4 linked regions of the Homo sapiens genome follow. Changing the gene in region 2 together with the main gene of any one other region gives a genetic interaction. Each region holds a gene or a part of one and is shown on either strand. Other genes may lie near its edges. The genes, in order: SEC63, GBF1, UBE3D and CREB1.

Evidence for each region.
Region 1: changes in GBF1 (region 2) and SEC63 together harm fitness more than expected from each alone (negative genetic interaction), as found in Homo sapiens cells (one study listed by BioGRID).
Region 3: changes in GBF1 (region 2) and UBE3D together harm fitness less than expected from each alone (positive genetic interaction), as found in Homo sapiens cells (one study listed by BioGRID).
Region 4: changes in GBF1 (region 2) and CREB1 together harm fitness more than expected from each alone (negative genetic interaction), as found in Homo sapiens cells (one study listed by BioGRID).

The regions. Positions count from the first base shown.
Region 1 is NC_000006.12:107,948,201-107,955,226, forward strand, and holds part of SEC63 (translocation protein SEC63 homolog), read right to left. Parts: intron 1-7,026. UniProt on the Homo sapiens protein: Mediates cotranslational and post-translational transport of certain precursor polypeptides across endoplasmic reticulum (ER). Proposed to play an auxiliary role in recognition of precursors with short and apolar signal peptides.
Region 2 is NC_000010.11:102,367,508-102,374,531, reverse strand, and holds part of GBF1 (Golgi-specific brefeldin A-resistance guanine nucleotide exchange factor 1), read right to left. Parts: coding exon 6,972-7,024; intron 6,315-6,971; coding exon 6,078-6,314; intron 5,794-6,077; coding exon 5,700-5,793; intron 5,322-5,699; coding exon 5,145-5,321; intron 4,822-5,144; coding exon 4,757-4,821; intron 4,672-4,756; coding exon 4,548-4,671; intron 4,359-4,547; coding exon 4,287-4,358; intron 4,149-4,286; coding exon 4,054-4,148; intron 3,826-4,053; coding exon 3,672-3,825; intron 1-3,671. UniProt on the Homo sapiens protein: Guanine-nucleotide exchange factor (GEF) for members of the Arf family of small GTPases involved in trafficking in the early secretory pathway; its GEF activity initiates the coating of nascent vesicles via the localized generation of activated ARFs through replacement of GDP with GTP.
Region 3 is NC_000006.12:83,055,817-83,062,842, forward strand, and holds part of UBE3D (E3 ubiquitin-protein ligase E3D), read right to left. Parts: intron 2,207-7,026; coding exon 2,010-2,206; intron 1-2,009. UniProt on the Homo sapiens protein: E3 ubiquitin-protein ligase which accepts ubiquitin from specific E2 ubiquitin-conjugating enzymes, and transfers it to substrates, generally promoting their degradation by the proteasome.
Region 4 is NC_000002.12:207,525,536-207,532,980, reverse strand, and holds the start of CREB1 (cyclic AMP-responsive element-binding protein 1), read right to left. Parts: upstream 3,020-7,445; 5' UTR 2,847-3,019; intron 1-2,846.

The sequences.
Region 1 (7,026 bases), on a different chromosome or scaffold from region 2:
CACTAGCCATTTTAACACATATCGTAATGTGTTATATTTACTTAATTACAGGAGGCAGCAGAGAGTAGTGGCTAACAAGAGATGCTCTGGCATAAGACAGAGTTGAGTCCAACAAACAGTCTTCCACCTGGTAGCTGTATGACTTTAGGAAAGTTGGTAACCTCCTCTAGGACGCAGTTTTCTCATGAATAAAATGAGATAATACATGAATCTAGCTCAAAGTGCTACCGTGAGTGCATTCCGCACTACCCACCTTCAGGCTAGCTAGCACTCACTCACTGAACAGCAACAGAGCTGAGTCTAGATGTAACTCTGGAGTCTACTGAAGGCTTGCAACTTTCCGGGAAAGGCTTGGAGGGTAAATTACGAAGGCTGTTGGTCAATTTTAGTTCCTTGGTTTGTACCTCCATGTTGGGGCTCAGTGATACCCAAAATATGGCATTTTGACATGCTGAATGAAGAAGCCTCAAGGTCTCTCTGACTTTCCTCCCTGCCCTCCTGATGCCCCCCACCATATCCCAAAGCCTTCATCTGCCTAAGATCCAGACCCACCAAAACGAACAACTGCTTTTCTTCTCCTCCTGTAGGACCAAGAAGGTAACCACACCTAAACAGACCCTTCACAAGATAATGTACAAGTTAATCTCTGTTCTCTGATCCATTGTCCCTAGCAATCCTATCAACAGAATTCCTCTTCTCCCCCTTCCCATAACCTGTTTCACCAGGATGGTATATAAGCTTCTGAACTACATTGGGATGTGGGGAATCACTCTGTGGTTCGCCCCATGTTCACATTAAATACATGTGTATGTCTTTCCTCCAATTAATCCACCTTGTCTGAGTTGATTTTTCAGCCAATCTTCAGAGGGCAAAAGGGAAGTTTCCCTTGGCCCCTACATCCACACTTTGTTTTCTAAACAATAAACTAATGCATTTAAAAGAATTATTAGTTTATGCTTTGGGGCACACAATGTATAAAGATGTAATTAGGGGAAATCAAATACTGAAAGAGGTGGGAAAGGAGCTATAAAGGAGCAGAGTTTTTATATGTCAAAGTTAAACTGGTATAAATTGAAATTACAATATTTAGGATGTTTAATGTAATCCCCATGGTAACCACACAAAAAGTAACTACAGAATATACTCAAAAGAAAATGAGATGTGAGCAGTGGCTCACACATGTAATCCCAGCACTTTGAGAGTCCGAGACATAGATCACTTGGGCCCAGGAGTTTGAGACAAGCTTGAGCAACATGGCAAAACCCAGTCTCTATTTAAAAATAAAATAAAATAAAAATTAGAAAATGCAAAGAAATGTAAACATTTCACTACAAAAAAAATCAGCTAAACAAAAAAATAGTAATGCAGGAAATAAGGAACAAAAGGATATATGCCTATAGAAAACAAATAGCAAAATGACAGAGGTCCTTCTTTTTACTTTTTGTGTGTGACAGGGTCTCCTTCTGTCATCCAGGTTGGAGTGCAGTGACATGATCATAGCTCACTGCAGCCTCGATCTCCTGGGCTCAAGTGATCCTCCTGCTTCAGCCTCCTGAGTAGCTAGGACTAAAGGTGCGTGCCACCATGCCTGGCTAATATTTTTTTGTTTGTTTGTTTGTAGGAACACGGTCTCATTATGTTGCCCAGGCTGGTTCAAACTCCTGGACTCAAGTGTTCCTCCCACCTCAGCTTCCCAAAGTGCTGGGATTACAGGAATGAAACACTGCACCTGGCCCTCCTTCCTTAACAGTAATTACTTTAAATGTAAATGGTTAAATGTTCCAATCAAAAGACTGGCAGAATGGATTAAAAGCACCTGATCCAACTACGTCCATCTACAAGAGACTCACTTTATATCCAAAGACACAAACAGATTGAAGGTGAAAGGATGGAAAAAATATTCCATGGAAACAGTAACCAAAAGATAGCAGGGTGGTGACTATAAGACAAAATAGACTTTAAAACAAAAAAGATTACAAGAGATAAAAGACATTACATATTAGTAAGAGGTTCAATACAGCAAGAAGATATAACATTTATAAACATTTACGTATCTAATGATCATCAAAATGTACAATGCAAAAACCAACAGAACTGAAGAGAGAAACAGACAGTGCTACAATAATAGTTTCAGACTTCAATACACCCTCCATCCCCAAAAATGGATAGAACAACCAAAAAGAAGATAAGGAAATAGAGGACTTAACACAAACCAACTAGATCTAACAGACATATACAACGCTCACTACCCTACAGCAGCAGCACATACATTGTTCAGAAGTGCCATGGGACGTTTTGCAGGATAGACTATATGTTAAGCCACAAGATATTTTATTTTGAAAGACAGATATCATACAAAGTATCTTCTCTGACCGTAACAGATGAGTATGACCAATAAAGATGAGTATACTGAGATACACAGAAGTTAAATCAGTAACCAATACAGATGAGTATACTGAAACACACGGAAGTTAAATAACTTGCCTAAAATTACAGTAGGCTGCAGAGCCACATTTCAAAACCAGGCATTTTGAAAAAGTAAGGTTAAGTAAGTTTTGAAAAGGGAAGATCAAGCCCCAAAAGTAAGATCAAGGAGTCAACAAAAACTTTTTTTAAATGATACATTTTATCTCAATTCAAAAGGAATTCTTTCCATAACCTACGGAAAGAATAAAAGCATGCTTTTGATTATTCGAAATTCTAATAATTACAAGCAATCAGTTATTTTCTCTTGTCAGATAATACTCTTGTCAAATATATCAATGAAAGCCTAATGATATAAAATGTTTAAAGTGATAACTCTTCTATTGTAAATCAAAAAAGCAGTAAACAAAATTATGCACTTACAAATAATGGTTGGATTGAAATTCCACATAAACATTAAGAACACTTCTCATTTTAAAAGCACTAGGAAAGACAAACATTAACAATTACAAGAAAGCACAAAGTGGGCAGTACACACAAAAGGTCACAGCACAGTATTGTTGGCAATACCAAAGATGGGTAGTGTTAAGGTAATTATGTGCAATTATTTCAAAATGTTAAGGATATCCAAATTACATAAGGCTCCAATCATAGCACAATGGTAAATACTCTGGAAGCCATTAATAGACAACTATGATAAACTGATTGTAAACTTGTATCATTAAAGTTGTTTGACAAAAATATCTGGCTTTTAACTCCCAGAACTTTACGTTACTGTTCTGTAAGTGCTTCTTAGCTATGTAAAACAAAAAGGCTAACACATTAGTTTTTTGGATTTTGTTGTTGTTGTTAGCAAAGAGCACATAGCAAAACAAATATACTACCTCCCAAAATGGCAACTACAGCAAAAGACCATTACTAAGGAAGCTCTCCTCCAAGCAGCACTTCTCAAACATAGCTACAATTTAGAATCATATAGGGATATTTAAAAAATACCAGTACATAACACCCACTCCAGACCAAATAAATCAGAGTATCTGGGGATGGGTACAAGTGTTTTAAAAAGTTCCCGAAGTGGGCCGGGCGCGGTGGCTCAAGCCTGTAATCCCAGCACTTTGGGAGGCTGAGGCAGGCGGATCATGAGGTCAGGAGATCAAGACCATCCTGGCTAACCCCGTCTCTACTAAAAATACAAAAAATTAGCCAGGCGTGGTGGTGGGCGCCTGTGGTCCCAGATACTCGGGAGGCTGAGGCAGGAGAATGGGGTGAACCCAGGAGGCAGACCTTGCAGTGAGCTGAGACCGCGCCACTCCACTCCAGCTTGGGTGACAGAGCGAGACTCCATCTCAAAAAAAAAAAAAAAAAGTTCCCGAAGTGATTCTAATGTGTAGCCAGGGTTAAGAATCACTATGCCAAGGAAATCTAAGCCCTCCGTGTTATCATTGCATACAGAGCTTTTGTCCTTAATTGTCTGAAGAAATATTCATTTTATTCAGCCAATTTGCAAACCAAGAGAGTAAAACAAATAACTACTAAAAGGGGTATTAATTATAAGTACGCTTAGCTAAACATGTTAAGCAGAAATCAAGGCAAAAGTATTCCATTAATAATGTTTTAGATAACAGGTACGTTCAATTAACATGTCAAATATGCCAATAAACGAACTATTTCCATTTTTCAAACCGCAGACTTTACAAGCTGTGAAATGGTGCTATGCTTTCTGGTGTATTCAAGAGCCCACTAATTCCAAAACAGCCATGCTGAAACGACTGTCAACCTTAAAAATTGAAAGTCCCAAATGTGTTGCAGAAAACACACAAAAAAAAACCTCAATAAAGATTAGTTAAACTGGGCCGGGCACAGTGGCTCACAGCTGTAATCCCAGCACTTTGGGAGGCCGAGGTGGGCAGATCCCTTGAGGTCAGGAGTTGGAAACCAGCCTGGCCAACATGGTGAAACTCTGTCTCTACTAAAAATACAAAAATTAGCCGGGCGTAGTGGCAGGCACCTGTAATACCAGCTACTTGGGAGGCCGAGGTGGGAGAACTGCTTGAATCTGGGAGGTGGAGGTTGCAGTGAGCCAAGATCTTGCTATTGCACTGGAGCCTGGGCAACAGAGCGAGACTTCATGCCAAAACAAACAAAAAAAAAATTACTTAAACTGAACTTTAAGGTTGTGTAACTGCCAGAGCAAACCTTTTCATGCTTTCATGCACATGCTATCTCTGAAAATACTGTCAGAAGTCTGAAATTCAAACGCATGCCTACATTTTTGTATTTGGCTACTTAACTGTTTCACAGGAAAACTAAATAAACTAAGCCTCAAAAACAAGTATTAAAATATGCTGCTGTGGCCAGGGAACAGTGGCTCACGCCTGTAATCCCAGGACTTTGGGACGCCGAGGCAGGTGGATCAATTGAGGTCAGAAGTTCGAGACCAGCCTGGCCAACATGGTGAAACCCCATCTCTACTAAAAATACAAAAATAAGCCAGGCATGGTGGCTCGCGCCAGTTTTCCTAGCTACTCAGGAGGCTGAGGCACGAGAATCGTTTGAACACGGGAAGCAGAGGTTGCAGTGAGCCGAGATCACGCCACTGCACTTCAGCCTGGGTGACAGAGCAAGGCTCCATCTCAAAAAATAAAAATACTTATATATGCTGTTGTGTTTCCCCAAAACTGTACTACGGGGGTCCTCATCTTTTACTTAAAATCCTTAAGAACAAATGTGCTTCAGAATTTTTCAGATTTGCCCCGTCCGGGAAGGAGGTGGGGGGGTCAGCCCCCCGCCCGGCCAGCCGCCCCGTCCGGGAGGTGAGGGGCACCTCTGCCCGGCCGCCCCTACTGGGAAGTGAGGAGCCCCTCTGCCCGGCCAGCCGCCCCGTCCGGGAGGGAGGTGGGGGGTCAGCCCCCCGCCCGGCCAGCCGCCCCGTCCGGGAGGGAGGTGGGGGGGTCAGCCCCCCGCCCGGCCAGCCGCCCCGTCCGGGAGGTGAGGGGCGCCTCTGCCCGGCCGCCCCTACTGGCAAGTGAGGAGCCCCTCTGCCCGGCCAGCCGCCCCGTCCGGGAGGGAGGTGGGGGGTCAGCCCCCTGCCCGGCCAGCCGCCCTGTCCGGGAGGGAGGTGGGGGGTTCAGCCCCCCGCCCGGCCAGCCGCCCCGTCCGGGAGGGAGGTGGGGGTGTGAGCCCCCCGCCCGGCCAGCCGCCCCGTCCGGGAGGGAGGTGGGGGGGTCAGCCCCCCGCCCGGCCAGCCGCCCGGTCCGGGAGGTGAGGGGCGCCTCTCCTCAGCCGCCCCTACTGGGACGTGAGGAGCCCCTCTGCCCGGCCACCACCCCGTCTGGGAGGTGTACCCAACAGCTCATTGAGAACGGGCCATGATGACAATGGCGGTTTTGTGGAATAGAAAGAGGGGAAAGGCAGGGAAAGGATTGGGAAATCGGATGGTTGCCATGTCTGTGTAGAAAGAGGTAGACACGGGAGACTTTTCATTTTGTTCTGTACTAGGAAAAATTCTTCTGCCTTGGGATCCTGTTGATCGGTGACCCTACCCCCAACCCTGTGCTCTCTGAAACATGTGCTGTGTCCACTCAGGGTTAAATGGATTAAGGGCGGTGCAAGATGTGCTTTGTTAAACAGATGCTTGAAGGCAGCATGCTCGTTAAGAGTCATCACCACTCCCTAATCTCAAGTACCCAGGGACACAAACACTGCGGAAGGCCGCAGGGTCCTCTGCCTAGGAAAACCAGAGACCTCTGTTCACTTGTTTATCTGCTGACCCTCCCTCCACTATTGTCCTATGACCCTGCCAAATCCCCCTCTGTGAGAAACACCCAAGAATGATCAATTAAAAAAAAAAAAAAAATCAAAAAAAAAAAAAAAGAATTTTTCAGATTTTAGAAAAGTAACACAGCGTTTACACTCAAACAGACCCTATGGGGTCTAAAGTGCACCAATAACCAAACAAATTAATATTCCAAGACAGAACATAACTATTTATTAAGTGAGATAAAGATTATTCAGTAGCCTCCTGTCAGTACAAGTCGGCAAATTATTTTGCAGCAAACTTCTGAAAAAAGTTCCTTATTCAGAGCTTTGAATGAGGCAGTAATTCAAGATTTCTCTTTCATATTCAAGATACTGCAACTGGGCTGCAGAAAAAAAGTCACTATGATGAAAACATCCTTTTACTACAACTGTAATTCCACAGAAACAACTCAAGTTATTAGGGTAAATCCAAGAAAAAAGTCCAAGTGGTGCCCAACAATTTTCATAATGATTAGAATAGCATTTAAGTATTCACCTTAATTTTCATAACACAATTTTGAGCAAGAGCAAACAAATACATCAAAATATGCATATGGACTAAGGCAAGCCTGAAGCAGAGAGCCGGATGTAAAACGGGCAAACTGACACCCATAATAGTTCACCTAACTTTCTATCTAGCAGTATGGAAACCACACAGGGCTCTGAAGCTAAGCGACCAATGTTCTAATCCCAGTTCAACCATACAGGAAAATTACTTACATGCTCTACCCTCAGTTTCTTTACCTGTAAATGGAGATAATAATAGAACCTACCTCACTGCATTGCTGGAGTGTGGTGGCACGA
Region 2 (7,024 bases):
CTCACAGCAGCCTCAAACTCCTGGGCGCAAGTGATCCTCCTGTCTCAGCCTCCAGAGTAGCTGGAACTACAGGCATGCACCACCATGCCCAGCTCATGTTGCCCTTTTATAACCACACCCACCTCCTCCTTCCTGCCCCCATCCCTAATCCTTAGCAATCTGTCTTCAAATTCTTTTTTTTTTTGAGATGGAGTCTTACTCTGTTGCCCAGGCTAGAGTGCAGGCAGGATCTCAGCTCACTGCAACCTCTGCTTCCCATGTTCAAGTGATTCTCCTGCCTCAGCCTCCCAAGTAGATGGGATTACAGGTGCGAGCCACCACGCCTGGCTAATTTTTGTATTTTTAGTAGAGATGGGGTTTCACCATGTTGGCCAGGCTGGTCTCGAACTCCTGACCTCAAGTGATTCACCAGCCTCAGTTTCCCAAAGTGCTGGGATTACAGGTGTGAGCCACTGCGCCCAGCCTGTCTTCAAATTCTAAAGTTCTGTCATTTCAAAAATGTTATATAAGTGGAATTATATATTACATAACCTTTTTAGATTGGCTTTTCTTTCACTCAGCATAGTTCCCTGGAGATGTCTGTTGCTTTAAATTGCTGAATAGTATTCCATGGTGTGTATGTACCACAGTTTATTCACCTATTGAAAGTCATCTGGGCCGATTCCAGTTTTTGGCTATTACAACTAAGGCTTCTATAAACATTCATGTACAGGTTTTTATGAGAAAGTAAGCTTTCACTTTTCTGGGATAAATGTCCAAGGGTGCAATTGCTGGGTTGTATGGTAATTATATGTTTCATTTTATAAGAAACTGCCAGCAGAGTAGCTGTACCATTTTACATTCCCACCCAGCAATATATGAATGACCCAGTTTCTCCACGTCCTTTCAGCATTTGGTATTGTCACTACTTTTTATTTCAGCCATTCTGAAAAGTGGGTAGTGATGTCTCATTGTGTTTTTATTTTTTGGAGTCTTGCTCTGTCACCCAGGCAGGAGTGCAGTGGCACGATCTCAGCTCACTGCAACCTCCTGCGTTCAAGCGATCCTCCCACCTCAATCTCCTCAGTAGGTGAGACTACAGGTGTGTGTGACCACGCCCAGCTAATTTTTGTATTTATTGGTAGAGACATGGTTTCACCATGTTGGCCAGGCTGGGCTCAAACTCCTGACCTCAGGTGATCCACCCACCTCAGCCTCCCAAAGTGCTGGGCTTACAGGTGTGAGCCTCATTGTGGTTTTAGTTTGCAGTACTCTGATGGTTAATGATGCTATCTTCATTTCATGTGCCTATCTGCCATCTGTATGTGTTCTTTGGTGAAACATCTGTTCCTATGTTTTGTCCATTTTCTATTAATAATTGGATTGTTTTATCACTGTTGTGTTTTGAGAGTTTTTATATTACAGATACCTTTCTTCAAATATGTGATTTGCAAATATTTCCTCCTCGTCTACAGCTTGTCTTTTCATCCTCTTCACATAGGCTCTCATAGAACAAAACTTTTAAAAATATTAATGTAGCCCAACTTATCAATTTTTCCTTTTCTAGATTGTGCTTTTAATGTCAAGTCTAAAAATTATTACTTTTTTTGAAAGAGAGTCTCCCCCGGATCTGTTCCATCCAGACAGTGTTGAGGCAAGAGACAGATCCACAGGACTGCCAAACATGCTAAAAATTCTTTGCTTAGCTCTAGATCCTGAAGATTTTCTCCTGTTTCTAAAGTTTTTATAGCTTTACATTTAAATCTATGATCCATTGGAGTTAATTTTCCTGTAAGGTATGAGGTTTAGGTCAAGGTTCATTTGGTTTTTCCTCCTATGGATTTTAATCACTCCACCACTTATTGAAAAGGCTATTCCTCCTCCACTGAATTGTTCTTACATCTTGGTCAAAAAATCCACTGAACATATTTGTGTTGAGCTTATTTCTGGTCTCTCTATTCTTTTCCATTGATCTACGTGTCTGTCCCTCCATCGACACCACATAATCTTGACTACTATAGCTATACAGTAAGTCTTTTTTTTGAGACAGAGTTTCGCTGTCCAGGCTGGAGTGCAATGGTGTGATCTTGGCTTACTACAACCTCTGCCTCCCAGGTTCAAGTGATTCTCCTGCCTCAGCCTCCTGAGTAGCTGGGATTACAGGCATGCCCCACCATGCCTGGCTAATTCTGTATTTTTAGTAGAGACGAGGTTTCTCCATGTTGGTCAGGCTGGTCTCGAACTCCCAACCTCAGGTGATTGCCTGCCTTGGCCTCACAAAGTGTTGGGATTACAGACGTGAGCCACTGTGTCCAGCCGAGAGTAAGTCTTTTTTTTTTTTTGAGATGGAGTCTCGCTGTGTTGCCCAGGCTGGAGTGCAGTGGCGCAATCTTGGCTCACTGCAACCTCCGCCTCCCAGGTTCAAGCGATTCTCCTGCCTCAGCCTCCCGAGTAGCAATCAGGCGCTCACCATCACGCCCAGCTAATTTTTCTATTTTTAGTAGAGACGGGGTTTCACCACGTTAGTCAGGCTGGTCTTGATCTCCTGACCTCGTGATCCACCCGCCTCAGCCCCCCAAAGTGGACAGTAAGTCTTAATACCAGAGTGATTCTTTTTTTTTTTTTTTGAGACAGAATCTCACTCTGTCACCCAGCTGGAGTGCAGTGGCGCGATCTCAGCTCACTGCAACCTCCGCCTTGAGTTCAAGCGATTCTCCTGCCTCAGCCTCCCAAGTAGCTAGGATTACAGGTGTGTGCCACCACACCCTGCTAATTTTTGTGTTTTTAGTAGAGATGGGGTTTCACCATGTTGGCCAGGCTGGCCTTGAACTCCTGACCTCAAGTGATCTGCCCGCTGTGGCCTCCCGCAGTGCTGAGATTACAGGCATGAACCACAGCAACCGGCCCAGAGAGAGTGATTCTTTCCACTTTATTCTTTCTAGCTATTCTAGAGCTTGTGCCTTTCCATCTAAATTTTAGAATAAGCTTACCTATGTCTACAAGAACCTTTCTGGGATTTTTATAGGAGTTATGTTGAATTTACAGATCAATTTGGGGAGAAGTGACAAAGTTACTATGTTGAGCCTTCCAATCCATGAACATAGTATGCCTCTTCATTTATTTACATCTTCTTCAATTTATTTTGTAGTTTTGTAGTTTTCATCATACAAATCTTATACATGTTTTGTCAGCTATATATTAAGTATTTCACTTTATTTGGAACCCTTGTAAATGGTATTGTATTTTAAATTTCAGTTTCCATATTGTTCATTGTTAGCATGTAGAGATATAATTACTTTTTGTGTATTGATCTCACATCCTGTGACCTTGTTGAATCCACTTATTAGTTCTATGCTTGTTGTTTTTTGTAGTTAAGCAAAGAGATCTCAAGAGGGTCATAAGCATGACAGGAAACCAGGTATAGGGCTGAGACTATTATAAGGCAGTAGCAGGCCAGTCCTACAAAGCAGATTCATAGGAGGCTGAGGTGCCAAACACAAGCTCCATGCCTGAGGCCATTCCAGGCTCACTCCCAGTACCACCCGCTAGACTGCACCAGCCCTGTGGTTGGTCACTGGACTCATGCTATGGGGCACTAAATGTACTCTCTGTCTCAGGCCATATTCATAATTGACAACTGTGGCCTTAATCCCTTGCATACCTGCCCACTCTCCAAGATGCATTCTGCTTACCTGAGCACTGATCTCTTCTCTCCGGAGAAGCCGAATGGCCAGGCGTAGCAACCCCACCACTGCCCGCTCCACAAGGAAGCAGAAATCTTGTGCCTGAACACAGAGGTGGTATAGATGGTCTCGAACAGTCTGCCACACACAGCCCACACGATCCCTGTGTAGACATAAAGGAATGAAGATAGTCTCAGCCAGAGGGGCCACTGGGCAACAGGTCCCCTAGGCCTTTCAGGACTCATTGGTATTATACCCTAAGTAGACAGGTATGATGAGTAAGCTTCTCCCCTGCTGCCTACAGTTCCCCAGAGCCCACTCAGCAAGATGGCTTCCATCCCTTTGGCACAAGCCCAGCATGGGGTCTGCCTAAAGACTACGCTCATCTTACCTGTTCTCCAACACAATCCTTAGCAGCATCTCTAGGCAGAAAGCAGCATCTTCCTCATCATATGTCTCTTCATCTGGTGTCACTGAGACCAGAGCCTGAAGGGGAACAGCAGCAGGAAAGTAGGCATGGAAAAGAAGCCAACCACTGGCCCTGCCCTGACAGAAATAATACTGTCCCTGTCACCCCTCCCAGATTCAGCCAGTTGTTCCATGTTTCCTTTCTTCATCCTTTACCTTCATGAGCTCCTGTAGTGACTCCAGCTGGAGGAACTTGCTTTCTGTGATCATTTTTTCTGGGTCACATTGCTAGAGAGGGCAAAAGAGAGAGGGGGTCTTTGACAAAGGCTGAAGAGAACAGAATGTCCCCAAGAGCCAGGGGGAGAGGGCAGAGTCAGCCCTGGTTACAAATCCTGGATGATTTATTCTTCAGTTCACCAAGTAGCATCTAATAGGAAGGTGTTTAGGCTTTCTCACCAGGGGTGGATGGGCAGTTACCTTTATACACTCTAAGGCCACTCTCTTGGCCTCTTGGTTTTCAGTGGATGGGCCCCGAACACTAGACTGCTCAGGACCACTCAGTGTTAGCCAGCTCACAAAGCTCAGCACTGTTGACTCTCCTCTGTAGAAAAAGGGCACATGGCCTGGTGAGCCCCAAAGTTCTGACTCTCCCTCCCCAAGCCCCTGAGCCTCTGGTCTGCTCTTACCGGTTTGATGGTGTCTCTTCCCGCTGTAGAGAGATCTTGCCATTGGGATCCACGAAATCTTCTACCTGGAAAAGTAAGTCAAAATAATTTCTTTCCATGTGTCCTTTGCATTTGTGCCCGCCTCCACCCACCAAAGTTCTCTGGATTTCCTCCTCTAGTCTTCTGCCCCTATGCTATTGTGCCAATTGGTGACTGGCAATGGCATCTACCAGCCTTCTTTTACAGCTATCCCCCAAGATCTGTGGTCTTACATTTGAGGCATTCCTGGTGAGCTGTGGCAGGCATCAGGCCCAACATTACTCTCAACCACTTACTTCTATGTACAGGTAGCATACAATGTTGCAGCTCTTGCCTTGTTATCGCTCACTAGTCTCCTACTAAGAATTACCTCTATCATAGCCTTGGGCAGTAGTTGGGCTCGGAAGAGCTGCAGCATGGCCTCCATGATATTCTTCCAGCCCTCCCGCAGGATGTCACCATGACGATGGGCCAAATGGAATACTGTCTTGGCTGCAATATGGGCTTTAGGGTTGCTTCCAAATACACTGGGCAGGTTCTCAATAGACTGGAAAAGAGGAAGAGAACAGACTTAAGGCCGAGCTAATGTCTGGAAAGGAAAATCTCTTAGGTCTCTGCCTATGATGGTTCCCTCAGGTCCTTTTGTTGGCTCTGCTTCAATCCCCCATAATACTGGTGGGAGTGGGTTAACCTAGTTAAGGCCTTCCCCACTCCTGTATCTCCTTTCCCATCCCCATTACATGAAGTAACACTAGTTTTATCCCAGAGTGTGCAAGACAGAAATGGCCTAAGCTCTGGTATATTCAAGTGGGGGCAGTGAGGGAAGACGCTGAGGGCAACCAGGTCTGTTGATAAGGGTAGATCCATGGCTAAAAGAGAGGTCCTCCTTTGGAGCTCCAAGTACACAGTTCCTGCACCTGCTCACCTCACTGCTGAGAGCTGTGAATTTGCATAGAGAGATGATGAGATTGTCAAACACATCGCTGAGGCCATAGTGGGCGGAGATCATGGCGCACTTCCTGTAATGTTACCCCCCATCCCAGAAACAGAGTCACTGGAAGGCCAAGCAGCCCTTCCAAGTCCCTGAGCTTGCATGGGGCTCTTCCCCAGTCAGTCCCAGGAAGAAACCTTTTAATTTTGTTTCTGTTTAAGACTGAGCCTACCCAAGCTTCAGCCTCCCTCCAAAAACTCAGGGGGAACCCCATTCTAATGAAGTAACAGTAGGAGTCAGAGAGGCATGGAGAAAACCATGTTAGCTCACAGAGCTAGTGGGAGGTGAAGACCAAGGCCAAAGCTGGGCTACCTGAAGCCTGAGATGGCTTTCTGGATGATTGTCTCCTCAAGGCTTTTGTCAAAGACATAAGAGAGAGCAGCAATAGTGGGGCCCCAGGTCATGGTGAAGAGGTCAAGATCATAGCTGGCAGTAGGCACACGCAGGAATATGCCCTCAGGGGTGGCACCTCGATGAAGCAGCACATTCCACACATAGTTCTCCCGAACCAAGCCTGTCTGCTCCTCAGGCATTACAATTTCCTCATTCCTGTCAGGAGGTAAGGGAAGGAGCAGTTGCACTGCTTTGAACCTGACTAGTTCCAAACCAAGACTAGGAGTTCATCCATACTAGCACTCTCCACTGATGAGAGGTCATCAGAACTGCAGCTCAGTGGTCTGCTTTCCACCCACCAGTGGGAGCAGACAGAAAGAAAGGAAGTGTCCCATAATCTCAAAGCCCTATCTGTAAGTGAGGCCTTTAGTTCTATAGTAAGATCACACATTCTTACTAGGTGTGATAAAATGAACAATTCTACCTTTTCTGATTTACAGTAAAAAACTAAGTGGCCCATTTCTGACCTGTAACCTGGGCCTCACACTCCAGTGCCCATCTTGGGTTCTCTACCAGCCAGCATCTTGTAATCTATACAGGAAAATGTACCTGTTTTAAGTTCAGAAAATGGGGCCATGATATCCTACTTAAGAGCAGCACTTTGGACCCTGGCTTAGAGTACTAGAGTCCCAATATCATTTGGGCTTCTTTAAGGAAGAAACAGTTGGCAGAGAGGGGGCTGCCCAACTAAGTCCTGAGGCTAAATCCAGGGCATGTGAGTCACTGCAGTCTGACATGACTCTAAAAACTGGGAAAGGAAGCAATGTGCTTCTTCTTAACAGAGATACTGCACTATTCTCTATGTATACTCACTTGATGGCATGGTACATGTCCTCCAGGATGTCTTGCTCAAAGTCCTTGCCTCC
Region 3 (7,026 bases), on a different chromosome or scaffold from region 2:
TGAAGGCTAAAACTTTCAAGTCACTTCCTACAAAACAGTTTGATTCAAGTTCACACCAGTACATATCTATTCATATTTATTCATTCCACAAATATTTATACACCATCTATTATATGGAAAGCACTCAGGCAATTAAGTGCTGAGGAATCTGTTTTGCATACTCTTTCATGCACTATGGAACAGGACTTTGATAATTTTCCTTTTCAGATATTTGAGCAAAATATATTAAAAGTGTAAAGAAATAGGAGACCAGTGAACACAAACAATATGCAAATCAGCACATAGCAGTCAATTTATTTTGTCCTATAGTTTAAACAATGTTTGCAGATTTAAATTTTTAAAAATAATTCCAGTTTTGATATTTGTATATTCAGTTACAGAATACAGAATATGGATGGGCAAAAACCCAATACTATGTCCCTGGTGGTCTCTATTCCTCCATCTCTAAAATCACAATCCCAGAAAACACTCCACTGTGGCTTTCATGCTTGCCTTTCCCAAATCTCAGAACCCAACACAAAATTCCTGCTGTGGTTACTCTTGTGAAAGAGGTAACTGTTGTGAAGGAGAAGGTGATGACAACACAACATCCAGCCTCCCATGGCCTCTTCCCTGAAACAACACTTTCTCTGCCCATTATTAGGTGCAATCAGGGAGTCTACTTCCCAGCTCGGTGACCCTAACCTTCTTGCTATGGTTATTCCAACAGTCATTCCTAGTATTTATCCTACAACATTTAAGTGCCATGACATCTCTTTTCCCTACCCTTTGTTCCTAAAACTAACCCTGCCCAACTCAAACTAGTTATTCACTAACCCAGGACTTGAGCAAAAATTGCTCTCCAGTAAAAAAGAAATGAAACCCTCTCTATCTTCTCTTTCCTCACAAAAGCCAAGAGCACAGACTCAGGGGAATACTCAACATCTCCTAAATGGCTCTTCCAAACACTCCTCCTGACCCCATCTCCAGGATCCACACAGCGCAGATGAAAGGTTTATTACAGATGAGGCAGCAGCGAAGTGTCAGTGTGCAGCTGAAAGAATTACAATCTTTCTCTGATAATAAACATCACATAAGTCTTTTACAGCCTATTTCCCCCTTTGACATAATTTTAATCCCCCAAAGCATATATTACGTACATTGTAATAGATGTAATGAACCAATAATTTTATACAATAAATAACCCTGAGGTCTTAGAAAAAGCAAATTTTCCACTGCCTTACCGAATCATTATACCAGTTACAAAATGTTGTAAATATAACAGGCATAGTAAAAGTTAAAATCAAATTAAGTATCAAACTCAACTGTAGGACCTTTTGTGTACTGTTTTCTCTATTTGGAACAGTCCCCACATGGATAGGATTTCCTTATTCAGGACTCAGGTCAAACATTACCTCCTCAGAGTGGCCTTCACTGATCATCCTTCAGCCAACCCTAGTCACTCCCTATCCCATTATTCTGTTTTATATTATCATAACACTTTTCTTAATATTTAAATTGTTTGCTCATTATCTGCTCCCACCAATTAGAATGTAAGCTCCATGAGAGCAGACACCTCCCCTACCTTGTTCACTCTGTATCCCCAGAACCTAGATTGATGCCTAGCACATAGCACAAACCAAAATATTTGTTGAATGAATAAATTTCCATGTAATGCTTTAAAATCAATCAGGTCTTATACAACTGCCATCTGATTTAATCTTCCCATCTGTGAGCCAGAAAATTTTACAATTAAAGAAACAAGGCAGTGGGTAAATGGGAAATCTCTATACTTTCTGCTCAATTTTGCTGTGGGTGGAAAAGAAAGAAGGAAGGGAGGGAGGGAAGAAGCCTCAGAAAGGTTAAGTAACATGTTCAATTGCATACAGCCAATAACTGGCAGAGCTGACAAAGACCCTAGAGCTTCTCAACCCCTTCACCTGGGAAAAGTTCAACTTATCAAAGGAAAAATCACCTTTGGTTTATAACAAAAAGGTAAATACAGCAGCAGAAGTGCTAATATTACTCACTTGTGCCTAATTTTGCTTGCGTCTGCAGTCGCAGGTGCAGTCCATCTCCAACAACAAACTGTAGCCCACGGCAAGAGGAAGGTACAAGCCTGACCTCTGCTGGAAGCTGGATTTCTGTGCAGCCTTCAGGGGTTTTCATCTGGAGTGAAGATGGCATTATGGAAATATTCATGGGCATACCTCCTTCTTTCGGTTCTCTGGTAATTAAAAACAAAACCCAAACAAATTATTTCTCACAATGAAAACCACATGATGAAAGAAACAAAAATGGCCAAGGATCTCTTTCTTCCTCTTCAATAGGAGCTCTAAAGTCACTGCCCCAGAAAAACAGCAGCAAGCAGATCATAAAGGAAAGCAACCTACACTAGATTTAGATCTGATCAGAGTGCCCTTCACCATCACCATAATATGCAAGTCCTGGGACAGATTTTTGGTTCTTCCTTCTGAGAAGAGCACTAAAATAATGTTTTATAGTAAATCAGAGCAAAGTACTGTTATTTCATATACAAGATTTTAATAAAGAGACCAAGATTCAGTGAAACAATGATACAAGACAAAAACCTGTCAATTTTAAGAATAAAAAGAATTAATGAAGAAAACGATACAGTGATGTATGAATATCAGGTGTGAAAGGACTTACTAATCCAATTCAGAGCAAACACAAATTACTCAGTATAGGCAATAAAGAGTAAAACACAGTCCCTGTCAAAAGCCCCCAGGCATCAAAAGTATAGAGGGGATAAAGGCATCTATGGAAATGACCCTCCTCTGAAACTGCAATACGCTTAGCAATGCAACAGAGGTACAAAGTACCATGGCTCCCTCTTAAGTGCAGACAGCAGGTCATCCACATGGTGTCAACTAAGTGCAGACAGCAAGCCATTTGCTTGAGTGTCATCTGAGTACAGAGGGTAGACCATGTGCTCAGGTGTGGATCTTGGTTAGGCCTTAGAAATCTGCCTTAGAAAATCTTATAGCTACTTTCTGGCTAGTTCCTTTTCAAAGCATATGGATCTGCACTTAGTTAGCAATACAGAATATTAAGCATCTGAGTTTTTTGCAGGGATGACAGTTTCAAACCTGAGTCAAAAGTTCAATTTCAAGAAATGGTGTTTAAGAAATAATGATCCTCTAAAACAAGAGTCAGCAACTTTATTTCTGTGAAAGACCAGATAGTAAATATTTTAGGCTTTATGAGCCATGTATGGTCTCAAAGTAGAATACATATTATACTTTTTATTTTTTAAAAAACAACCCTTAAAAAATGTAAAATCAGCAGGTCGAGGTAGCTCACTCCTCTAATCCTAGCACTTTGGGAGGCTGAGGTGGGAGGATGGTTTGAGCCAAGAAGTTTGAGACCAGCCTGGGCAACAAAGCAAGGCTCTGGCTCTACAAAAAAATAAAAAATAAAAAATCAGCTGGGTATAGTGGCACGCACCTGTAGTCCTAGCCACTCAGGAGGCTGAGATGGGGAGGATCACTTAAGCCCAGGAGGCTGCAGTGAGCCATGATCACGCCAATGCATGTCAGCCTGGGCGACAGATCAAGAACCTGTCTAAAAGAAAAAAAGATACAGAAGAAAAATCCAACTCTTAGCTCACAGGCTGTACCAAAACAGGCTGCAGGTAGGATTTGGCCAATGGGCCATAGTTCTCTGACCACTGCTCTAAAGATAACACAATGTCCATTTGCTACCTCAATGACTTTCAAACTAGACTGTGTAGAGTTGACACTTCCAAGTGCCGCAAGAGATACCACTGGGTTCCTAAGTCCCCATTGCCACCCCATCTCTGGTTTATCACATTTCTTCCCAGTCCCAAAAACTTTAGTCATTTTATAGGGCCAAGCAAGAGAAGCATCATTGCAAGGGTGGTGACACAGTGGCCCAGCACGGATTTGAGAAACTAAGCAGACTGTGGAGGGCATCCATAGGGCCAAGCAAGGGAGGCATCAGTGCAAGGGTGGTGACACAGTGGCCCAGCATGGATATGAGAAACCAAGCAGGCTGTGGAGGGCATCCACCAGGAGGACCACTCAGCAGGGGTGTCAAATCCCAAGACAGGTGAGGAGGAAATCTGAACAGGAGGTGAGGCCAGCTCAGGATGGGGTTTCAGAGCCTGTCTTAGCTCAGCTGCTATAACAAAATACTATAGATGGGTGGCTTAAACAACAGACATGGCAGAGTAAGGAAGTTCAGTGCCTCTTCCTCTTCATATAAGGACACTAATCTCATCAGGGGGGCCCCGCCCTCAAGAACTCATCTAAATCTAACTACCTCCCAAAGCCCCATCTCCTAACACCATCACTTTGGGGGTTAGGGCTTCAACATGTACATTTTGAGGGGACACAAACATTCAGTCCATAACAGGGTCCAAGCAGGTGAGGAGAGTGTCAACAATGAGCAGGGGGAGGTGGCAAAGGATGCCAGCAGACTATTAATTACATAGAGGGAGACTGACAAAATAAATAAATGCCACTAGGACAATGAGGGCCATGATTCTCACTGTGGGAGAATGGAGTTACAAAAAGAGAAAGCGAGGAAACTAGAATAGACCCTATGGTGGTGGGGCAGAATTAGAAATACCTGTGTGAAGTCATGGTTTTCAATGTTTACAAATAGATACAGTAATATTGATGGTTGTAAATGCATGTATGTACATAGGTATGTAGGCACAACCATACATAGACATCATATATAAGTCATACACACATACCCTAGTTCTGGGAGAAGCGACATCCAACAGTGATGAGTACACTTAGTGCCCAGATCTTGGTTTGTAAAGGCCATTTTCTGCTTTAAAAAACGAAATGAACAAACCAGAAACAAAGTTCCTCAGTAAAATGACTACATCCAGGGCTGTAACAGGGAAAGAATGAAATATGCCTGGAACATGTTGCTGGAACATGAAGAAATCAAAGAATGACAGGTACCTACCAAAAAAGACGCAGAAACCATCCAGAAAGGACTTCCTTGGCCACATCTGGTATAATATGAACAAAAAAGTAGCCCATTGAATAAAATAAAAAATAAAACCCACTGAGTAACCCACAGTAAGAATCATGTATCCTTACTGACACACAAATGAATAAAATGAAACTCTGATGAGGAACAGGGTATTTACATAATCTCAGAATACCTCTCCAATTACTGATTATGAAGAGAAAAAGAGTAACTTTAAGGTAGAGAAGCATGGCAGACACTATCTTACTTTAAGTGCTCAAAGTTAACATAACCAATTTGATGGAACAAAGCAAAATCATGTGCCACCTGACAGGAAGCCTCACTTCTGTTATATTCCTGCCAAAGATGCAAAATCTGAATCTTGTCTTGAAGAAACATAAGACAAATCCAAATGGAAGGATATTCTACAAAATGATTGTACTATCATCTTGCAAAGTGTCAGGACCATGAAAGTCAATGGAAAATGAGGAACTCTTCTAGATTGAAACAGACAGAGGAAGCATGACAGTGAAATGCAATGCCTTATTCTGAACTGGATTCTTCTGTTATTAGGGATATTATGTAGACAACTGGTAAAACATGAATGATGTAAGATGGTAGCAACACATTTCCCAATTGTGAGTGTTGGATGATGGTTCTTTAGGAGAATTCCTACTTTAAGACTAAGTTTGATTGACATAGTTCATACAATAATTTCATACTTGAGGCTTTCTTCACCATTGACTTGTATTCTGTCAGGTATCACAACTGCTTAAAACTATCCAATGACTTCATCTCTCACTCTAACTACAAGCTAAAGTCCTTTCGATGGTCCATAAGGCACAGTGGTATAGCAGGCCCTGCTGCTACAAGCTTTGGAGAACCTGTTGTTAAAATTCTAGGAGTTCTGCAAAGCAGGTCAACTCACCTCACCCAGTTGGTAGGCTGAAGGTCATACGTGGTGAAAGTATTCACACCAAAGAAATCAACAAATGCTTCAAATCAAGACCTTAGTTTGTCTTTTTGTTTATTTTCATGGAGAGTAGGTTATTAAACATGTACCAGCACACTGCCATAAGATCTTTTACTATGTGTTCCCCCAACTCACCCGCATCTCTCTGAACTAGGCACCCTTTCATACTCACTTTCTCTCAAAGGGAAATTGTCTCCCACCAGGTATGGCAGTTCTACACCTCACCAGTTACAGTTTAATACTCAAATGTTAGTTTCTCATTTGAAATAAAAGATTGTAACTTTTTTCTCCCCATTCCTTTTTTGTTTAATTTTTTTCTCCACTTCTATCAAATATATATTTATTTTGTATATTCTCTGCCGCCTCTTCTCTACTGCCACCATTAAACCCTATGCTCAACAAAGGCAGGTGTTTTTGTCTTTGCTGTTGTTACTGTTCATGGCTGTATTCTCAGCACTTAGAATTTGAATTTTTGGCACTAGAGTAAGAACACAATAAACATCTGTGGATTGAATAAATGAATGGCCAAAGTTTATCCCAAAATGCTAAGATATCTTAATATAAATAGATCTTTACATCTGTGAATGTAAACTTTGGAAGCCAGACTCTTTTTCACAACCCACTATGGCAGGAATTAATCCATTCCTGAGAGAGAACTCACCCAACCATCTCCATGGGAGGGCATTAATCTATTCAAGAAGAATCTGCCCTCAGGAACCACGCACCTCCCACTAGGCCCTATGTCTCAACACTGCCACATTGGGGATCAAAGTGAGAAAACATAGGGACAAAACACATCCAAACCATAGCAGTTAGGAACAAGAACACCAATATTTAAATTAACTATAAAATATACTAAACATTTTAATTAGAACACACAGATCATCAGAACAGATTTAAAATCACCCAACTATATATTTTTAAAACTAGCATACAGTTTTATGCTATTTTTAGGGAAATACAGTATTTTTACAGCTTTTTGCTTTATACAGAAAGACATAAGAAAGGTTAAAAAGGTAGAAAGGACACACTATGCAAACAGTATAGTCAACTGATTTCTCATGAAGACTGAGTTATTTTAATGGGAGAAATGATGGCCTTTT
Region 4 (7,445 bases), on a different chromosome or scaffold from region 2:
TTGAAGTTTCACCTGGAATTGCTAAGAATCACAAATTATGAATGTATAAATAATAAAACAGGCCGGGCGCGGTGGCTCACACCTGTAATCCCAGCTACTCGGGGGGCTGGGGCAGGAGAATTGCTTGAACCCGGGAGGCGGAGCTTGCAGTGAGTGAGCCGAGACCAGCCCACTGCACTCCAGCCTGGGCAATAAGGGCCAAACTCCGTCTCAAAAAAACAAATAAATAAAAATAAAAATAAAAAATACAATTTAAAATATCTCTCGGGCAAGACTAAAGAAAGAACTTATCAGTAAACTTTTTTTTTTTTGAGATGGGGTCTCGCTGTCACCAGGCTGGAGGGCAGTGGCGCGATCTCGGCTCACTGCAATCTCCACCTCCTGGGCTCAAGAGATTCTCCTGCCTCAGCTACCCTAGTAGCTGGGATTACAAGCACGCGCCACGACACCCAGCTAATTTTTGTATTTTTAGTAGAGACGGGGTTTCACCATGTTAGCCAGGATGGTCTCGATCTCTTGACCTCGTGAGCCGCCTGCCTCGGCTTCCCAAAGTGCTGGGATTACAGATGTGAGCCACCGCACTCGGCCATCAGTGAACAATTTTTTAAAAATCTCACAAATGAAGAGTCATATATTCTTTCTTTTTTTTTTTTTTCTTTGAGACGGAGTCTTGCTGTGTCGCCCAGGCTGAAGTGCATGGCACGATCTCAATTCACTGCAACCCCAGCCCCCCGAGTAGCTGGGATTACAGGCGCGTGCCACCACACCCGGCTAATTTTTGTATTTTTAGTAGAGATGGGGTTTCATCATGTTGGCCAGGCTGGTCTTGCACTCCTGACCTCAAGTGATCCGCCCGCCTCGACCCCCCAAGTGCTGGGATTACAGGCCTCAGCCACCGCGCCCGACTTATATTCTTAACAAGAAAAAAAATTCTACTCTACTGATAGTGGCTTGCGGAACAACATAAAGGAAAAATGGTAAGCTACCATTATCAATACTATAATTTTTTCAGTGCTCGGAAATAAAATCATTTCCCCAATCTTTATAGAAAACCTGCCTTTATTGCCTCTTCTTAATTTTCTTGGAAATGACAAATTGCCAATGTGGTCTTTTAAAGAGAAGCAATACAGCAAAGCACGTTTTGGAAAAGTGACTAGAATACAGAAAAATAAGACAGTGCTTCTGCTGCCAATCAATATTTGTTCTTAACCAGAAGGTTTGTACGTATCAATCACAATGCAATCATACAGTGACAGACAAGTATTTTTAAAACAAACTTGTTCGTCTTTTGCACCACCTAAAATAACTGTTCGGGGCTTTACTTTTAAATCACGAAATGAGCCATAAATGTAAAAGATTTCAATAGGCAGCAATCAAAAGTATCTTCTACTAAACCTTCAGAAGTTAGACGCCAGCTGAGGTTAGAATTATAACTTGAGATGGTATTACAAACTTAAATAGGTCATACCGCACGTCCTTCAAAAACTGTCTTTTAATTTTTAATGTGTCAATGACTTTTCTGCTGTCCTCTTTTCCCAACAGGCGAAGAAAAAATACAGCTTGTGGCTTAAATTGTCAATCTCAAGACGGGGGTTACCTACTGCATGAGACAAATAATGGATACTTTAATGTCTATTTTTAGTAGTAGTATTAAATCAATCTCTCATTAAAGTTCACACAGAAATTCGTGGGAAATATGGTAGGGGGAGTGGGACGGAGGGTGAGGGGAGATCCAGATGACCCAAACGCGGTTGGCAAGGTTGCACCCCGCGAAATGATGTAAAACAAGAGTACATCGGCTGATACTCGTTCCAACGAAGTGTTTCAGAATGATAGATCTCAAGTGATGATTACCTTATTAAAAAGGGTTAAAACCGAAACTGTTTTCAAACACCAGCTTCCCTTTTATAAGATCCCAACAGTTTAAAAAGTTATTATAAATGTTTTTCTTAGCACCCTTTCTCCCAAAAAGCATGCATTTCCATGACTGACTTTAAAAAAAAAAAAAAAGCAAAGGGGTGAGGGAGTCAAAAATTCCCCCCAAAAGCACAAGCTCTCATCTCTCAACTAAGCAACACAGGGCAGAAAGCAGCATTTCCTCAACGGTGTAGGAGCGGGGGGGAAAGGGCACGAATAAAATACAGCACGAGAGGAAACCTTGGGTTTCGAACTTTATTGCACAAAGAGTGGAGAGAAGAGTAGGTCAGACGTTGCAGCTCTTCCCCTTGCGAAGCGGGCATGGCAGGCACCGAAGCCACCGGGAAGGCAGCAGGCACCTTCACCTCCTCTGCCCTCAACTGTCGCCTTCTTCCTCCTCCATCCCCCACCGGCACCTAGGCGGCGGCTGCCCCGGAGGCCCGGCCGGGTCGGGCCGGGGGCGAGGCGGGCGGCGGGGGCCGGACGAGCGAGCGGCGCGGGGGGCAGCGCCGGGCCGAGCGGGCGGCCTCCCCCGGGGCGGCTCCGGGTTCCCGGCTCCGCGCCCGGCCCGGCGGCGGCGGCGGGAACGCGGGCGCCAGCTCGCCGCGGCCGGCCGCCCGCACACACCCCCGGCCGCCGGCTCCCACCCCGCCCGCCGCCCGCCGCCCGCCGCCCCCCGCCATGAGCGCCGCCGCTGGCTGCAGGCAGAGTCGCTGCCGCCCCGGCCGCCGCTGGCTCCAGTCCGCCGCCATTATTCTTTGTTCGCTGCGAGCGGCGGCGATGTTGTGGGGCTCGGGCGGAGGCTCCATCTTTACCGCGGCCCCTCCTGCGAGGGGAAGGCCCCAAGCGCGGGTGTCCGGCGCCTCCCCGTCCCCCCTCCGTCCCCCCGGCTCTCTCTGGCTCCTGCCTCCTCCTCCTGCTCCTCTTACCGGTGGTACAAGCTCCTCCGTCACTGCTTTCGTTCACGGCCCGGATCTCGCTGGAGTTTTATTCTCTCCCCCACGTAACACACCGCGTCAAACTACACCTCCGCCGCGTCACTCACCAACACTCCGCTTCTCCCAGCCGCCCGGGCCACAGGCAGCAGCAGCCGCCGCCGACTGAGGAGCCGCAGCCAGGGAGCCAGCCAGCGCCGCCCAGTGCCGAGTGCGCAGCGGCCGCGCACGGAAACAGCCGAGCTAGGCCCGGAGCAGCTCGAGCGGCCCCGCCCCCGCGCTGGGGACGGAACTTGCCGAAGACCTTCGGGTTTCTTCGGGCGACGAGAAGGGGTTCCGCGGGGAGAGGGAAGGCGAAGGCGGGCTGAGCCCGGCGCCGGGAGGAGTGGTCTAAACTCCACCGCGGCTTTCGCATCGGTAAAGCCGGCAGCGGAAATTTGAAGGAGGAAGCGGGGTTTGTGTGTGGCCCAGTGGGGGAATTCCCGAGGGGTGTCGGCGACTTGGTGGAAACCCCCGCTCAGGCCTGCCCCTGCGGCGGTGAGCGGCGGGCTAGAAGGCGGCTGCGGCTGCCCTGGCTCTGCTCTTGACCGCCGCCAGCCCCGGGAACTTTCCGACGCCGCCGGGAGACGGGGGACGGGCAGCCCGGGCTGGGACGCGGCCGGACCGCTGGAGCCGTGCGGGCTGGGGAAGAAGGTCTGCTGCGCCTCTGCCAACGTCCCGGGGCCTGGGACCCGGGGGCGTCGTGGGACCCCCGTGGGGACGGGTTTTCCTTTCCGAGACTCCGCGGAGAAACCTGGCGGCCGCCAGCGGAGCATGCTTTTCCGGGGGGCGCTGGCCCCGATACTGTGGCACCTTGCGGGGCTCTGCCCGGACCATGGCTGACGTCGACGGCCCTCGGAGGCCTCCAAGCCACACAACCTGCCCGGACCCCTGGAAATATGCCCCATCCTACCTCCCCGCCTTTCTCCAGACAACATCCTGTGTCGCTTTCTTTCCTCAGCCTGTTTTCTACAGCAGGGATTCGCACCCACTGCACCCTAAACCCAGCAGGGGGACTTCCGTGGCTGGAAACTACTGAATTGTTCTTTCAGAGGTCTCTCAGGACGGCACCACTAGGTCCCCATTCTCCTTGATAGTGAACTCTGCAGCCCTCTCCTTGGGGTTTCAAGTCTTTTTTTTTTTTTTTTTTTTTTTAATGAGACGGAGTCTAGCCCTTGTCGCCCAGGCTGGAGTGCAGTGGCACGATCTCGGCTCACTGCAACCTCCGCCTCCCGGTTTCGAGCGATTCTCCTGCCTCAGCCTCCCTAGTAGCTGGGATTACAGGCACCTGCCACCACACCTGGCTAATTTTTGTGTTGTTAGTAGAGACGGGGTTTCACCATGTTGGCCAGGCTGGTATGGAACTCCTGACCTCAGGTAATCCACCCGCCTCGGCCTCCTAAAGTGGTGGGGTTACACGTATGAGCCACCGCGCCCGGCCTCAAGTCTTAATCATTCTTTTTCTGTCCTTTAAAGGAGACGTGTCTTTAGGAAGCAGAGAGGGTTCGATTCTGGACTCCGCCCATGACTCACTTCTCTTGTAAAGAAAGAGTTGTCCTTCCTGGTACTCCAGGTACCCTACTGTTTTCTTATGGACTTTGCCCTTAACGAGTCTCCTTTCCTTCTGTTACTCTCAACCTTTCCTTCTCTACCGGCTCTTTCTTACTGGTATTTAAACATGCTTAAGTCTTTCAATTCTTTAAAAAGATTTCTCTTCTCCCTAAATTGCTCTCCAACAACTGCAGCTGTCTCTTACCCCATGGACAGTCTTTCATGTCCCACCTCCCAGCCCTCTCCAGTGTCCCCACCGCTCACCTGAAGTGGCTCTGAATTGTCCACAGACAAGCTTCATGACTGTAAATGCAGCGGATCATTTTCAGTCCTCATTTTACAAGCCCTCATCCCAGTATTTGACGCGATTGACCACAGTTGCTTCCAAATACCCTCTTCCCTCTGGTCTTATGTCCCAGGTTTCCTCCCTACCTGAGTTTGCTCTTTAACAACCAGCTCCTCCTTGATCTACCTCTTACACATTGGAATCATGCTGAGCTGAACCCTGGCCCTCTTACTGAGTCTCCCCATACACTTTCCTAGGTGGTCTTATGCTCTCCCAGCAGCATCAAATACCCTCTGTCAAAGACTCTTCAATCCATAACTCAAGCCTAGATCTTGCTCTGGAATCCTACATTCATAGTTCCCAGCATACTGCCTTTGGTACACTTTCATTTGGATGACTTAGGGCATTTCAAACTCAACCCGTATATCATAATTCCTTCAAAACGCTCCTCCCATAGTCCCTGGTTCAGTAAAGGGTATCTTAACATCTACCCAGTTCATGCCAGAAACCTAGCACACCTCCAACACACAGCAGAATCACCTACATCTGTCTGCTCCCTGGAAAATTGGATTTGTGACCTCTCTCTGTTCCCATGACCATTTTTTCATTCCCATTCTAGTCTAAACCACTGTTGCCTCTTGCTTGAAGTCCCACAGTAACCCATTCAGGTCCTCCAAAACTGCTCTTGCCTCGTTCCAATACATTTGCCATACTGCTGCCAGAGTAATTTTTTAAATATAAATCTGATCATTGACCTGCTTAAATTCCTCCAGTGGTCTCCCTTTGCTTACCACACATTGTCTAAGCTCCATTATCTGTACTTGTCTTTCTCTCCAGCCTCTCCATCTGTCCCCCTAGCTGCCTGCACTCCTGCCATAGTATTTTAATTTTTTCCAGGCTCTCCTCTTTTTATTCCCTACTGTAGGCTCTCACTTCAGGGCATTTACACATGCCCTTCCCTTCCCCTGGAATTTTTTTCTGTCACCCATTCCTCCTACTTAACTGTAACTTATCACTTTCTTTTCCAATTCCTACTTCTCATTATTTGTTTAGTGTCCATGTAATTGTGCAGGTAAGGACCACGTCTGTCTTGTTCACTACCAGCTTTTCCTCTCCCTAGCAACAGCACAATGTCTAGAATATAGTGGTACTTGTTAGGTATTTATCGAATAAATAGTGAATTTCTGAGTGGTCCCGGGCAAAGTTTTCTCAACATTTGAATTCAAATCCTGGCTCTCAGTGAGTTCAGGTTGCCGTAGTAAAGTACCATATAGACTGGTGGCTTATAAACAACAGAAATGTATTTCTCATAGCTCTGGAGGCTGGATATCTGAAATCAGGCTGCCAACATGGTCAGGTTCTGGTGAAGGCCCTCTTCAGGGTTGTAGATGGCTGTTTTTTCCCTTTACCTCACAATGCAGAAAGAGAGCAAGAGCTCTCGGGTTGCTTTTATAAGGCACTAATCCCATTCACAAGGGGTTTACCTCCCAAAGGCCTCATCTCCTAATACCATCACATTGAGGGTGAAGATTTCAAAAATACGAATTTGCAGGAGACAGGGGTGGGGGTGAATTCATTGCACTGGCTCAGCCACTTATTAGCTAATGACTTTGGGCAAATTGTTCACTCTTGTGCCTCAGTTTTCCCATCTGTAAAATAAAGATGATAATAGCACCTCATAGTGTTATTGTAATGATTACGTGACATAATACATGTGAAGTATACTTGGAACAATGTTAGGAAAAATGTTGCCTATTACTAGCTTTTACTTGGATAGCTTATCCTCGTGTCAAATACGTTTTCAAAATTGAGTTCATCTTCCTGCTCTTCTTACCGTGGCTCTATACATGATATCAAAAAACTTTGGAATTATTTACTCATAACCTATAATTATCACCCACCAAATATGGTGAGTTTTTATTTAAAAATGTCCTCATATTCATTCTTCCTTTTTATATACACTAACCTTCATTTAGACTCTATTATCATTGATTATTTTGCTAACTTCCTAGGTGTCTTCTAACTGGAGGCTAGCTTTCCCTATTCATTTGGGCCCTTACTGTCAGACCAGTGGGCCTCAAACAATTATTAAAACATATATTCTTCTTGACTTCTGCTCAAATGACCTCCGTTCCCACCTAACTTTGTTCATTCATTTATTCAATCATCCATTCATTCCAATGCAAGTTATTTTACTACTAACATTTTGGGTATACTCTAGATTTTCAGCCTCTCTACTTTGACATTTCTCTCTTGGATATTCTCTCTTCGGATATACTCTAGCATTTTCAATCTCACTATCTGACATTTCTCCTTTCAGCATCCAAGTTTTGTCTCTGGGATTTGGAAGCCACCTGCATTTTAAAAGAAATTTTTTCCAGGATCAGTCTCTCGCTGTGTTGCTCAGGCTGAAGTGCAGTGGCTGTACACAGGAGCGGTCATCGCATGTGACAGCCCCACACCCCTGGGCTCAAGTGACTCTCTTGCCCTCAGCCTCCTGAGTAGCTGGGACTACAGGTGATCCCCCATTTTTGACTCAGTTTTCCAATTGCAAAATGTGGTCAATATCAGGGAGATGAAAGAGGAGCACACATGGATGTAACTTGATAGAGTATAAGAAAAGTATCTTGAAAGAGGTCCAGAATAGGGGGAAGGTCCCATAAGATGATTATAAAAGGCTTCAAAGAGAAAGTAGTATTTGAGAGCTTTTCTATAAT